Homo sapiens: one gene and its partner. Each later gene encodes a partner of the first gene's protein in a complex. Each region holds a gene or a part of one and is shown in the gene's direction. Other genes may lie near its edges.

Region 1 (7,025 bases):
AGATCCGCATGGAGGCTGCCCGCACCTGCTCCCGCCTGCTCACACCCTCCATCCACCTCATCAGTGGCCATGCTCATGTGGTTAGCCAGACCGCAGTGCAAGTGGTGGCAGATGTGCTTAGCAAACTGCTCGTAGTTGGGATAACAGATCCTGGTAAGGCTTGCCAGACAGAAGGAATCTAGGGGAGTTAAGGAGCTTAGGACAATTGGGAGTAGCCAGTTTCATTACATGGCCTCTCTAGAGTTCTTCGGCTCAAAAAGCTGATATTCAGCTATTTCTCTGCCAAGGCGTGTTAGGCATGGCTACTGTAGCCTTTGGTGTAAGATAATCTACCTTTAATTCTTTTGTCTTTTACTCTTGTGAGTAGAGAAAAGAATGACAGAGGTTAGATGAGAAAAAGCATCTGGAATCTTCCCACTACGCTGATGGCAGTGGAGGTAGAAGCTGGGAAGGGCTGGAGTGATGGGATCATGAGGAAATGTTCAAAGGCTCCATTGCTCTTGCAGACCCTGACATTCGCTACTGTGTCTTGGCGTCCCTGGACGAGCGCTTTGATGCACACCTGGCCCAGGCGGAGAACTTGCAGGCCTTGTTTGTGGCTCTGAATGACCAGGTGTTTGAGATCCGGGAGCTGGCCATCTGCACTGTGGGCCGACTCAGTAGCATGAACCCTGCCTTTGTCATGCCTTTCCTGCGCAAGATGCTCATCCAGGTAACCGAGGTGATGGCCAGACCCACAGGCAGGGAAGACAGGACTCTCGCTGTGAGAACTGCTTGAGGAAGCGGAGTTGAGGACAAGGATGGGGGAGAAAGATTGAGGTACCTGGTAAAAGCCGCATTTGTCTGCAAAGGTCCAAATGTTTCCCTGGCTTTATAATGGCAGTTCCAGTGCTCATCACCTCATGAGCCCTTTGTCAATATGACTCTAAGGTGGTTCAGAGTCCTCTCATGCAGCTCTTTCTTTTTCCTGGCAAGTCACCAGTGATCCCATTTCTTGGCCCTCTTTGCTTGCTGGGTTGATCTGCTGCAGATGGTGTCAGACTTCCCAGCGCCTCCCTATCCTTCAGCTCTCCTGCTTTTCTTGCTGGTGCCAGGTCAAGCACGGAGGCCGTTGTTCTTCACAAAAATAACCAGTGTGAGACCGTTTCCACTATTTGTTCTAATAGTCATTGCTCCAGTCTGTGATCCTGGCTTTCGTTCTTAAATAATATGAGAATGCCAAGCTCAGCTGCTTGGTCTGTAGCGTAAGGTAGAATTGCTCTGGAGACATGGCTCCTCAGTTTTTGTCTTCACCTACTGAGTAAGATCTGTGGCCTCCTGGTGAGCAATACATGGAGTCCTGCCAATACACCAGTCCTGCCTGGTGAAGTTATTTCCACCTGCCTCTTGTGGGTCTCTATGTTGCTCACCCAGTCATTTCCTGTCCCCATTGCTCACTGTTTGCTTCCTGATCCTCCTTCATGGTTTGTTTTGAAGTAAACACTTTTTATAACATATAAGGAACTTAAACATAGAAAATCATTAATATATGTAACTCACTCTAGAGAAATGTTTGTTCACAATTTGTTATAAAGTGGCTGTAAATTATATCATCAGTCAACAAATTAGGAAGTTGTACTTATGTTGGCACTTCTATTTTTAGCGTAATGATTTATTTAACTGCCGGCCTGCGTTAGAAGTGCCTGCCATTTTAAGTCTTAAAAACATTCCTCAGTTATAGGAAGGAATAGAAATCATTGTTGAAGGCCGGGCGTGGTGGCTCATGCCTGTAATCCCAGCACTTTGGGAGGCCGAGGTGGCCAGATCACCTGGGGTCAGGAGTTCAAGACCAGCCTGGCCAACATGGTGAAACCCCATCTCTACTAAAAATAAAAAAAAAATAGCCAGGCATGTTGGCAGGCGTCTGTAATACCAGCTACTCTGGAGGCTGGTGCAGGGAGAATTGCTTGAACCCAGGAGGTGAAGGTTGCAGTGAGCCGAGAGCGCGCCACTGCACTCCAGCCTGGCGACAGAGCGAGACTCTGTCTCAAAAAAAAAAAAAAAAACGTGAAATCACTGTTGAGCCTGCCAGCTCAAATCATGCTAAATTAATTTGGCGTAGAAATATCTCCTAAACGGCTGAGTGCAGTGTCTCATGTCTGTTATCCCAGCACATTGGGAGGCCAAGGCAGGCGGATCACAGGAGCCCAAGAGTTTGACAAGACCAGCCTGGGGAACATGACAAACCACGTCTCTACAAAATATACGAAAGTTAGCTGGGTGTAGTGGTGCATACCTGTAGTCCTAGCTACTCAGGAGGCTGAGGTGGGAGGATCACTTGAGCCTGGTAAGTTGTGGATGCAGTGAGCCGTGATTGTGCCACTGCACTCCAGCCTGGGTGACAGAGTGAGACCCTATCTCAAAAAAAAAAAAAAAAAGGAAAAAATAAGAAATACCTCCTAATGAGAATATCAATATGTTCATTCTGTCAGCAGACTTTTTGACCACATGCTATGTTCCAGGTACTGCTGGGCACTGGGAATATAGCAGTCAACAAGCCAGGCGTGGCTGCAATCTTCTTTCTTTTTTTTTTTTGAGACACAGTCTCGCTCTGTCGCCAGGCTGGAGTGCAGTAGTGTGATCTTGGCTCACTGCAACCTCCACCTCCCAGGTTCAAGCGATTCTCCTGCCTTGGCCTCCTGAGTAGCTGGGACTACAGGCGCCCGCCACCACGCCCAGCTAATTTTTGTATTTTTAGTAGAGATGGAGTTTCTCCATGTTGGCCAGGCTGGTCTCAATCTCTTGACCTCATGGTCTGCCCGCTTCGGCCTCCCAAAGTGCTGGGATTACAGGTGTGAGCCACCTCGCCCGGCTGGCTCTAATCTTCTTAAAGCTGATATTAAGCTATCAGGCCATTTCATTTTTTCAATATTGCAGAGTGTGAAGCTCCTTTGAATGAATTTATGTACTGAATTTAGCCCTTGAAATGTTAAAATTACTCTTTTTTGTTTTTAAACTTTGATATAGATTTTTCCAAATTGAGGTGTACATTTTCATGCCTTGGTAAAGGCTTTGGTGTTTTGTTTTGTTTTGAGACAGAATCTCACTCTGTCACCAAGGTTAGAGTGCAATGGTGGGATCTCGTCTCACTGCAACCTCTGCCTCTTGGGCTCGAGCAGTCCACCTGCCTCAGCCTCCTAAAGTGCTGGGATTACAGGCATGAGCCACCGTGCCTGGCCGACTTTGGCCTTTCTTGCGGTCTTGGTCATCAGGGTGGGCATTGGTTATTGTTATTAGGATGCAGTGAGGCTCTCGGGCTCTAAGTGAACCTGGGGTTCTTTGGATTGGCCCCGCACTGCTGCAGATAGTTGGGCTCTGCTCCGTGAGGCACATTTCCTTGCAGTCAGCCATGTCTTCTTGGTGCTGCAGGTCTATTCTCAGTATCCCCTTCATTTCTTTTCCCTGTGGTCTGCTATGACTGGGGAAAACAGGCTGCCAGGGGAATCCAGAAAAATCGGGTTATTAAGTCAGTAACCTAAGACAAAATGTAATGTTAAATTGTAGACTCCTCTGGGTAGCTGAGTTAACCTGAGCTCTGTGACATCTGCTTTTGTCACTGCTCATCGATTTCCTTCTGGCAGCTTTATCCAGAAATCTGTCTATATTATGCTGTCTATGTCACCATGAGCAAGATATGCTGATTTGCTGGTGTCCTAAGGATGTCAGCTAGAACCAATGTGTTATCTCCAGTCAGTAAGGCTTCGGGGGATCCTGCCAGTGTGATCCCCACCTATTGAGGTTTATCTAGATATGCCCCAAACAGCTACAGAGTATCAGCACTTCTCTTGGCATCATAGCTGTTCTAACTGTTCTTTGATTCCTTTGCCATTATTTGTAGTCTTCAGTAATTTGCTGTCTGGACAAAGATTTTTCTCCCAAGGGGCCCTACCTTCTTTCCTCATTTTTATAGAACCCTACTCACAGCTCTCCCTGTTGGTTTTCTCAGTCTTCTCTGGCTGTGCTACATGGTTAAAAGCTCTGCTTTAGAGAGGGCCATGGGACATTGGAGTGCTGTGATAAAAGGAAAGGGAGCAGGTTTTCGAATAGTTTTTCTTCCTGTCACAGCTGTATCTAAGGCTGTTCTGCCTGTTGCAGAAAAGTCTGTTGCTCATTGAGTATCTAGCAGCTACTTCATCTGTCGTGGAGGTCTGGGTTTTTCCCCCAGTTCCCTGCCACTTTTTCTGTTGGACACAGTCTCTCTCTAGAATGTCTTCTGCCATAGAGAACATATGAGCCTTTCTTCCCTACAGATTTTGACAGAGTTGGAGCACAGTGGGATTGGAAGAATCAAAGAGCAGAGTGCCCGCATGCTGGGGCACCTGGTCTCCAATGCCCCCCGACTCATCCGCCCCTACATGGAGCCTATTCTGAAGGTAACACAAACCGAGAGGCTGGTGCTTTCTCTGTGCGTTGTCATCAGCTCATATGGGGAGATGGGAGTGTTTCAGTGTTCACTAGTACACTGAACAAAGTAGGTGATTTCTTTGCTCTCACGCTTGGAGACCAAAGGGCCATATCAAGCACTTTCAGTTAAAGAATACCAAGAATCTTATCAGTTGCAGGAAAGTGCTGTCCTTACAAGAGGTAAGAGTTAATGCTTCAGGCACATCATCGCAGATGTTTGGAAAGGAGAAGTAGGTAGATAGTAGCATAAAATAGCTCGCCCAAAATGAGGAAAAAATGAGCTTGAAAATCTGAAACAACCTTCAAATCTCAACACATTAGAGTCACGTGAAGTCCTTTATAATGTATGTTAATCTGGATGAACAATCACTGAGACTCGGTTTAGAGGAGACATGAGAAATACTTTCACATTATGGTGCTTCCCAGCTCTCTCACATGTCAGACTTAGACTTCATATGGAGAAAAGTTTGAGAATTTACATTCCAGAGAAATCTTGGATTCATAAAGCCTAGAAGGAATTTCTTTATGACTGAGATGGTCTCTTGGGTGAATTTTACTTATATAAAAGAAAGGTTTCTAGTAGAGTCTAATCTGCATTCATTTTCTCATAACTTCTTTCTCTAGGCATTAATTTTGAAACTGAAAGATCCAGACCCTGATCCAAACCCAGGTGTGATCAATAATGTCCTGGCAACAATAGGAGAATTGGCACAGGTAAAGGGGCAGCTACTTTTTCCATAGCGGAGATAGGGTGGAAAAGAAACTAACCTCTAAGGAAGTCAAAATACTATTTTTTTTTTTAAATGAAAGGTCTCACATATTTATTGCGGAACCCAGCCAACAATGCATTCATAACAGATTCAGAGAGAAATAATATATTCTCAATAAAACATGTCCAACTCTCCAGATAGTGGTGACATTTTCAGCTTGATATGGTAATATCATTGTGACCTTCAGACAGCATAAATGTGTGTGCCATCTCATGTGCAATTCCTTATAGACCCTGCTTGGTTCTTCTCCAGTGTCTTTTTTTGGAGTTGTACCTGGTTTTATTACCAGTTTTCATCCGAATCCACTGGGGAATGGGACGATTTTACTTTTGTTTCTTGGCCAGGAATTGCTTAATTCTGAAAGTCTTGTGAGAAGAATGGCAAGAATCAGAGTCAGGCACACACCATGATGGTGGAGAAAGGAAGAGAGGGCTTTTTTAAAAAAAATTTTTTATTTTATTTATTTGTTTTTGAGACAGTTTCACTTTGTCCAGGCTGGAGTGCAGTGGTGTGATCTTGGCTCACTGCAACCTCCATCTCCTGGGTTCAAGTGATTCTCGTGCCTCACCCTCCCAAGTAGCCGGGATTACAGGTGTGTGCCACCACACCTGGCTAATTCTTGTATTTTTAGTAGAGATGGGGTTTTACCATGTTGGCTAGGCTGGTCTGGAGCTCCTGATGCCAGGTGATCTGCCCTCCTCAGCCTCCCAAAGTGCTGGGATTACAGGCATGAGCCACCGTGCCCGGCCTCCAAAATACTTTCTAATGCCAGAATTTCTAACCCTTTCTGCCACCCTCTTTTTCATTTTGCAGGTTAGTGGCCTGGAAATGAGGAAATGGGTTGATGAACTTTTTATTATCATCATGGACATGCTCCAGGATTCCTCTTTGTTGGCCAAAAGGCAGGTGAGTATTACTGCTTCCTGATTGAGCAAGACAGACCCCATGAGTCCAGGGACTTTGCTTCTCTTTATTCACCTTAGTGTCCTCACCCAGTGCCTAGAACAGAGTGTGACACATAGTAGGTGCTCAAAAATATTTGTTGAATGAGTAAAAGTTAGAAAGATTTGAAACCAGAATTACCTGTTGTCCTGACCCAGAGTCAGTTTCAGTAATTATCGGGGCTGACTAGTGCCATTTTGTCTATACAAAAGAAAATGCAGGTCAATTGTCAGAGCCGTAGCTCTCAGAGGGAAAAAGAAAGCCTTGGCCACTGCCTATGAAGGAACAGAAGTTTAGCTCATCCTTGCCCAGCCCTGGTTCTGCTTTCCCAATTTGAGGCTATTAGATGACTAGACTAAAATTAAGAACAGTCTTAATTTATTTCTGGGCATGGCAGCTCACACTTGTAATCCTAGCACTTTGGGAGGCTGAGGCAGGAAGATTGCTTGAGCTCCAGAGCGAGAGCAACCTGGGCATGATGAGACTTTGTCTCTACTAAAAAAAAAAAATAGCTGGGCATGGTGGCATGTGCCTGTAGTCCCAGCTACTTGGAGGCTAAGATGGGAAGATCACTCGATTCCAGGAGATTAAGGCTGCAGTGAACTGTTATCACACCACTGCATTCCAGTCTCCAGTGAGACCCTGTCTCAACAACAACAAAAAATCTTAATTTCCTTTTGAATCTCCTGTTAATCATTTGGGATATGGAAGAATGATGTGTTTTCTTTGAGAAAGGTGGGAATTTTCTTTGTCTCTTGATCCAGTGATTGTTGCAGGGTTGTGTGCTTGATCAACCTTGGTTTTATGCCCTTTTGGGATTTCTGCTCATGGTTAGTGTCTTTACTGGAAACCTCTTTTCTTCTTACAGCC
Region 2 (7,045 bases), on another chromosome or scaffold:
AACTTAAAGTATAATTAAAAACAAACAAACAAACAGCAACAACAAAAAACCTCTGGTCTCCAGCACAGCCGACTCTGCGTGAATTACTCTTTCTCTATTGCAATTCCCCTGTCTTGATGAATCGGCTCTTTCTAGGCAGTGGGCAAGGTGAACCCCTTGGGCGATAAATAGCAATAAACTGCTTGGAGAAGTGCAGGAAAATAGCCCAGAGAAGGTGGCATTTCAGTTAGCCTTTAAAATCAGGCAGGATGGCCCGGCACAGTGGCTCATGCCTATAATCCTAGCACTTTGGGAGGCTGGTGGGAAGGTCACCTGAGGTCAGGAGTTCAAGACCAGCCTGACCAACATGGTGAGATCCCTGTCTCTACTAAAAATACAAAAAAATTAGCCAGGCCTGGTGGCACATGCCTGTAATCCCAGCCACCCAGAAGGCTGAGGCAGGAGAATTGCTGGAACCCGGGAGGCAGAAGCTGCAGTGAGCCAAGATCATGCCACTGCACTCCAGCCTGGCTGATAGAGGAGACTCTGTCTCAAAAAATAATTAATTAATTAATTAATTAAAATCAGGCAAGAATAATACCAATGCATATTAAAAGGCAACAATAATCATGACAGCTAACATATTAATCTTCATAGCTGACAGTATTCTTTCATGCATTTTATCAATTCAAGTTCATCTCCTTTTTATATTGCTGCTGACCTTTAGGAAGTGTTTATCACACCAGTGCTACTCCAAGTGTGGTTTGCTAACTGGGCACGATCTTGGCTCACTGCAGCCTCCGCCTCCCAGGTTCAAGCAATTCTCCCACCTCAGCCTCCCAAGTAGCTGGGATTACAGGCACCTGCCAACACACCCGGCTAATTTTTGTATTTTTAGTAGAGACAGGGTTTCGCCATGTTGGCCAGGCTGGTCTTCAACTCCTGGCCTCAAGTGATCCACCCACCTCACCCTCCAAAAGTTCTGGGATGATAGACGTGAGCCACTGCACCTGGCTTCATTTGTATTATTGTATTTCATCAAAGTATCAGGCTTCAATGGGTTGAAAGCATACACACACACACACAGGTGGATCTTCCCCGCCAAACCTTTGAGAAGCACTGGCCCCAAAGCACCAAAACAGACAGAAGGCATGAAAGAGGTAAGTGTGGAGAGCTAGAAGAGAAAAGTGTGGAGAGCTAGAAGAGAAAGCTCACACTTAATAGTTCCCACCTGTAATAAGTGCTTTCAGTAAATTTTATTTAATCCTCCCAATAACCCAATGAGATTGGTGTTATTATCTAAATTTTACAAAAGAGGGACAGCAAATTCAGAGACGATAAGGAGCTTGCCCAAACATGGCCAAGAATCAAACCAAGGTTTGTCAGAATTCTGTTTTTCTGAAATATTTATGCTGAATTAGTTGCCATATGAGTGCCCTTTTCTCCTTGATCAATATCTAAAAAATTACAGTTTATCTGGAACCAGTTGCTCCTGGGCTCACAGTCATGGACATGTCCTCAGGATGTGGCTCACCAATTTTTCCCTAAGTTAGGAAAAAGGATCTGTCTTCTTACCCAGTGGAGCATGGTGTGTGTCATATGTCAAAAGGTTAAAACAATAACAGCAAACCAGTTCCCATTTCCTGTTCAAATATACCTACCTATACACACACCGCCCCCTACACACACCTCTTATCAGGCAAGAAAAATAAATCATGCTCTCTCACTGTCACTGGAACAATAGCATCAGGTATTTTCCTAACTCGAATTTTCTTTTCTTTTCTTTATGTTAAGGTGCTTTTTTATCTTAAAGTTACAAATTTGTGTTACTGACATGGATCTTGGAAACTTTACATAATAGAAATTTTAATGTTATTTATTTTTTCTTTTTTTTAAGTGTCAGGGTCTTGCTCTGATACACACACTGGAGTGCGGTGGTGCAATCATAGCTCACTGTAACCTTGAATTCCTGGGCTCAAGTGATCCTTCCACCTCAGCCTCTCAAGTAGCTGAGACTACAGGTATGCACAACCATACCTGGGTAATTAATTTTGTTTTTTTTTTGTAGAGACAGGGTCTTGCTATGTTGCCCAGGCTGGCATTGAACTCTTGGCCTCAAGCAGTCCTCCCACCCTAACTTCCCAAAGAACTGGGATTACATTATTTCATTTAAGCCACGCAACATCCCTATGAAGTAGAAATTATTATTCCTGTTTTATCGATAGGAAAGGGAGGCCAAGAGAAATAACTAGCATAAGGTTGCAAAATTAGCAAACGACAGAATTGAGATAGAAATTGCATGTTTGACTGAGAAGCCCGTGCAAACTCTTGATATTCTATTTAGTAGTTATAAGATTAAAACATGAGCAACAGACACCTTTTAATCTCATTAACTCTGGGACTTCTGTTGAATGATTTATGTATTTTATGCAGAATAAGGCTCTTAGAATCACAGTCACCTAGAACTATGTCTGCCTTGGTCTACATGTCTATTGTGGCCTATTTAAAAAATTAAGAAACTTAAATAATTTCTTTTGGCAAAAGAGTCACCTAACATCTGTCTCATGCAGATTCAGAGCTGGTCTGCTCCCGGATGTTCAAGGGAGTTGGGCAACTATTCTCTTTCTGGAGTGGGGCTGAGTATGGCCAGGGTTTAAGGGCTACCTAACTTTCTAGGCAGATTACTTCATCTTTCTATACTTAAGCTTTCTCATTTGTAAGTTGAAAATAATACCAAACTCCAGGGTTTTGTGAGGATAAAGTGTTTGGCACAATGTAAAGCACAGAATAAATGCTCAACACACATGAATACTGCCATAAACATTACTTCGCCTTCCTGCAGACCAACTCCGACTCTGCATGAAACAGAAAATCAGAACATTTATTTGGTACTAATCAAATTTCTTTTCATAATCTTTTACGGATAGACAATACCATTGTATCCCCATTTTAAGAGGCAGTCTTTCAGTCTTTTCAAAGCATAACTTTGAAGCCAGAATTGCCTCGGTTAGATTTCTTCTTATTATTATTATGATGATTTGAGACGGAGTCTCGCTCTTGTTGCCCAGGCTGGAATGCAATGGCACTAACTCCGCTCACCCGAACTCGGCTTACAGCAACCTCCGCCTCCCGGGTTCGAGCGATTCTCCTGCCTCAGCCTCCGAAGTAGCTAGGATTACAGGCATGCACCACCACGCCCGGCTAATTTTGTATTTTTAGTAGAGACGGGGTTTCTTCATGTTGGTCAGGCTGGTCTGGAACTCCTGACCTCAGGTGATCTGCCCGCCTCGGCCTCCCAAAGTGCTGGGATTACAGGCATGAGCCACGGTGCCCGGCTCTTCTTATACTTATTATTTGCTTGCCTTAGACAAGTAACTTCACCTCTCCAAGCCTGCATTCTAATGCAAAACGAACACCAATACCTATTTTATGAATTATTGTAATAATTAAACGAGGTAATACCATACCTGAAGTATCTTTAATGCAGCAGATGTCAAAAGTGGTAGCCGCAATTATTTTTATTTTGTAAGGGAGGATTAAACACATTTAAATAGGACATCACAGGAGCGGAGCTGGATCCCAGGTCAGCCTGATTCCTAGGCCGGCGTTCCTTATTGATTACAACATAAGGCAAACAAGTCGTCTTTGGAGAGAGAGGTTGGGGAGAGAAGAATGTTTAATTTCTCCATGCCCTTCAATGACATGTATAACCTTCACTGTTGACCATTTGGCCAGATTGTTGAATTATGTTTTGCTCTCTGGCAACTTGGGGTGTGGAACGTACAATAAAAACGCCTTCACACTAATAACCTCCAGGCCTGTCCCCAGGATTCTACAGCATGAGCTTTGTGGGTAAAGAGAGCTCACCAAATTCAGCCTCCAGCAGCACACACAGCTCAGTAGCAGCGCCCCGCCCAGATGTTTATATTTTCCTCCATCGGCCCCGCCCCCCGACCATGAGGGGCTCTAGCCACGCCCCCAAGCTCAAGTTTCTGGGGCCGGACTAGCCCAGCGCGTCTGCCTACCCATAGGGATTCCCTCTCCAGCCAATCCAGTCAGAGCAGCGGAGCTGCCCCGAACAAAGATGGCGCGGGAAGCGTCTGTGAGGGCAGACTGATCCGAGCACCCAAACCCTCGGCGGACAGCGGAGCCAGTGGTAGCCGCACGGCCCTAAAACCATGGAGGAGGGCGGCAGCACTGGCAGTGCTGGCAGTGACAGCAGCACCAGCGGGAGTGGCGGGGCGCAGCAAAGGGAGCTGGAGCGCATGGCTGAGGTCTTGGTCACCGGGGAACAGCTACGGTAAGGCAAGAGACACAGCGGGTGAGCTCACGATGGCACTGCCAACGCGTGCCCGCTGCAGTCCTGCGCGCACGCGCTCCCTGGCTCGTGGCTTGCGACTCGCGTGGGGCGCCGGAACGGCTGCGGGCGCGTGGATGGTCCTCGGTGCGCCCGCGCTTAGCTGCTGCAGCCTCGGTCCCTGAGGACTCGCTCGCCAAGCGGGGCTGCCTGGCAGAAGCCGACGAGCGGGTGGTGCGCGCTGCGCCCTAGCCTGGCTGCTGCAGTCCTGTGCCGGGCAAAGTCCCTGCCACCCACCGCGCTGTCCGTCTTCCCGTGTACCTGGACGCCGCCAGGCCTCCCGGCTGACAGCCTGCGCCTCATCCGCGAAGAGAGCAAGAGGGGTCGCTGTGGGGTCCCGAGGCGACCCCAGCCCCTCTACTCCTTGATAAAAGGAGCAAGACCAACGATAGTCTTCACTAGGTTTTCCTTTTTGCTGACAAGTCTTCCTTCACTCCCCTGAGCCTCGGTGTTTTACATCTGTAAAACAGGGCTGATTCAAGGGCTTTTTGTGAGGTTAAACTGAGAGAGCATTTCTGAAACCCTGCACCTATCAGTTAATTGGCACATCGTCCTCAATCATTTGGGTCCGCAAGGGGGCGTGGAGGCACCTTGTCGGGCTGCCTTGAGGCTGTGCCAACTCCCCGGGCTCGCACGTTTTGGGCAGCAGGATCCATGGGGACCCTGGCTCCTGCAAGAATTAAGACTTGCGGCGTCTCACGGAACTTGGGAACAAGGACGACCCCCAGAATCCCCCTTGCCATTCCCATCCCTGTATGGTCCTTCCTCTAGGGCTGTTTGGGAATAGTACTTATGGTCTAACTGGTTCTGCAGCTGCCCTTCGTGTGGTTATAAATCAGTTTGCCAGGAAAAAGAAAACCCAGCTCTGCAGCGTTTGAGCCACAACTTGTACGCGGGCCCCTGTTACTTCTAGTTCTTAGCCTGAATTCCCCAGCTTGTTTTGGTTTCTAAATGTCTGTGTTTCAGGACCTGAAAGAGTGTCTTGCAAAGGTCTCTGAAGGAGACCAATATTGGAAGTCAGAATTAACTGATTTTTAATGTTACAAAAGGCAAATTGCACCTATCGATTCTTTGTTGATTTTTAAAAATACGTGGTCAGAATTAAAGGGAATAAAAACTTTTTTTCCTTCATCAAAAGTACTTTCTAATGAAACCTGTCACGCGGTGCCCGTGTGAAGAGACCACCGAACAAGTTTTGTGTGAGCAATAAAGCTTTTTAATCACCTGGGTGCAGGTGGACTGAGTCTAAAAACGGAGTCAGCAAAGGGAGATGGGGAAGGGGTTGTTTTATAGGAGTTGGGTAGATGATGGATAGTGGTGTAAGTTTGTGAGGTGCAGTCCAAGAAGGCGGGGGTGACTTCATAAAGCCCTGTTGTAAAGAGTAGAGTAAGGAAGAAGAGACCTGATATCCCTTGGAGAATAAATGTTGAAGGAGCAGGAGGGTGTCTTGCTGAGAAGATTCAAAGGAGAGGCTACAAAGTAGAAGGTCATCAATATATTGAATAAGGTGAGAAGCAGAGGGGTAGAAAGAAAGTAAATCATGAGAAAGGGCTTGGCTGAAGTAATGAGGGCTGTTCCTGAAGACTTGCGGCAGTACAGCCCAGGTAAGCTGCTGGGACTGATGGGTGTCAGGGTCAGTCCAGGTAAAAGCAAAGAGAGGCTGGGACGAGGGGTGCAGGGGAATAGTGAAAAAGGCATCTTTAAGATCAAGAATGGAATAGTGAGTTGTGGAGGAAGGTATTGAGGACAAAAGAGTGTACAGGTTTGGCACCACAGGGTGGATAGGCAAAACAATTTGGTTGATAAGGTGCAGAACCTGAACTAACCTGTAAGACTTGTCCAGTTTTGGGACAGGTAAAATGGGGGAATTGTAAGGAGAGTTTGTAGGCTTTAGAAGCCCAAGCTGTAGCAGGCGAGTGATAACAGGCTTCAGTCCCTTTAAAGCCTACTGTGGGAAAGAAAGTTTAATTTCTCTGCTCTTCATTACTGGGCCATCTTTTTAAAAGTCTTCTGTTGGATAGGGTTACTTATTTTTCATTTATTTTACAAATATTAAATTGCATGATGGCTCTTTTTGTCCAGCAAGTACTTTTTCCTTCAAGATGCAGTTTAAATGCCTCTTCCTTGCAGTCCCCAGAGCACTTGTTATTCCCCACTTTTCTAGCGCCTCTCTGCACTGCAGCAGTTTTGAGAGCCATCCTTGTCATGCAGGAATTAGACCTGGGTTTGAATGACTGCTCCACCATTATGTAGGCAAGTGTCAGCATTAAGTTGTTTCAAGGAAGACTTTAAGCTAGACTGAATCTTGGCTTTGCTACTTACTAGTGTGGGACCTTGGACAAGTGATTATGCCCGTAATCCTGGCCCTTTGGGAGACCAAGGCAGGCGGATCCCTTGAGGTCTGGAGTTCAAGACCAGCCTGACCAACATGGTGAAACCTCATCTCTACTAAAAATACAAGAATTAGCCGGGTGTGGTGGTGCATGCTTGTAATCCTAGCTACTTGGGAGGCTGAGGTGAGAGGATTGCTTGAACCTGGGAGGCAGAGGTTGCAGTGAGCCAAGACAGTGCCACTGCACTCCAGCCTGGGCAACAGAGTGAGCCTCCATCTCAAAAAAAAAAAAAGAAGAAGAAGGATGGGTAATAATGGAATTTACCTCATAGTGTTACTATGAGGATTAGATGAGTTGCGCTTAGGGTAGTTTCTGA

What was found. Proteins that work in one complex are often made in the same cells at the same time.
Region 2: the proteins of MTOR (region 1) and DEPTOR are in contact, whole or in part, in a cryo-EM structure (PDB 7PEC), measured with the Homo sapiens proteins. Residues at the interface, in NP_001373429.1 of Homo sapiens: Met304, Gly305, Phe306, His1494, Cys1498, Trp1501, Gln1525, Asp1527, Ser1528, Glu1530, Glu1531, Cys1534, Met1535, Ile1536, Arg1538, Arg1547, Gln1554, Leu1556, Leu1559, Gln1562, Cys1563, Lys1566, Arg1683, Leu1685, Asp1686, His1687, Lys1710, Ile1711, Phe1714, Gln1715; in NP_073620.2 of Homo sapiens: Arg54, His56, Leu57, Lys58, Thr59, Tyr60, Pro61, Val101, Arg116, Lys119, Asp121, Gly122, Thr123, Phe124, Lys131, Ala132, Arg135, Arg138, Lys142, Glu177, Gly178, Glu179, Glu185, Cys304, Asn305, Lys307, Gly335, Asp336, Ala337, Val338.

Annotation. Positions count from the first base shown.
Region 1 is NC_000001.11:11,231,530-11,238,554, reverse strand, and holds part of MTOR (serine/threonine-protein kinase mTOR), read left to right. Parts: coding exon 1-153; intron 154-506; coding exon 507-712; intron 713-795; exon of another isoform or gene 796-819; intron 820-4,289; coding exon 4,290-4,412; intron 4,413-5,067; coding exon 5,068-5,157; intron 5,158-5,241; exon of another isoform or gene 5,242-5,645; intron 5,646-6,026; coding exon 6,027-6,119; intron 6,120-7,025. UniProt on the Homo sapiens protein: Serine/threonine protein kinase which is a central regulator of cellular metabolism, growth and survival in response to hormones, growth factors, nutrients, energy and stress signals.
Region 2 is NC_000008.11:119,869,690-119,876,734, forward strand, and holds the start of DEPTOR (DEP domain-containing mTOR-interacting protein), read left to right. Parts: upstream 1-4,032; 5' UTR 4,033-4,157; coding exon 4,158-4,279; intron 4,280-7,045. UniProt on the Homo sapiens protein: Negative regulator of the mTORC1 and mTORC2 complexes: inhibits the protein kinase activity of MTOR, thereby inactivating both complexes. DEPTOR inhibits mTORC1 and mTORC2 to induce autophagy.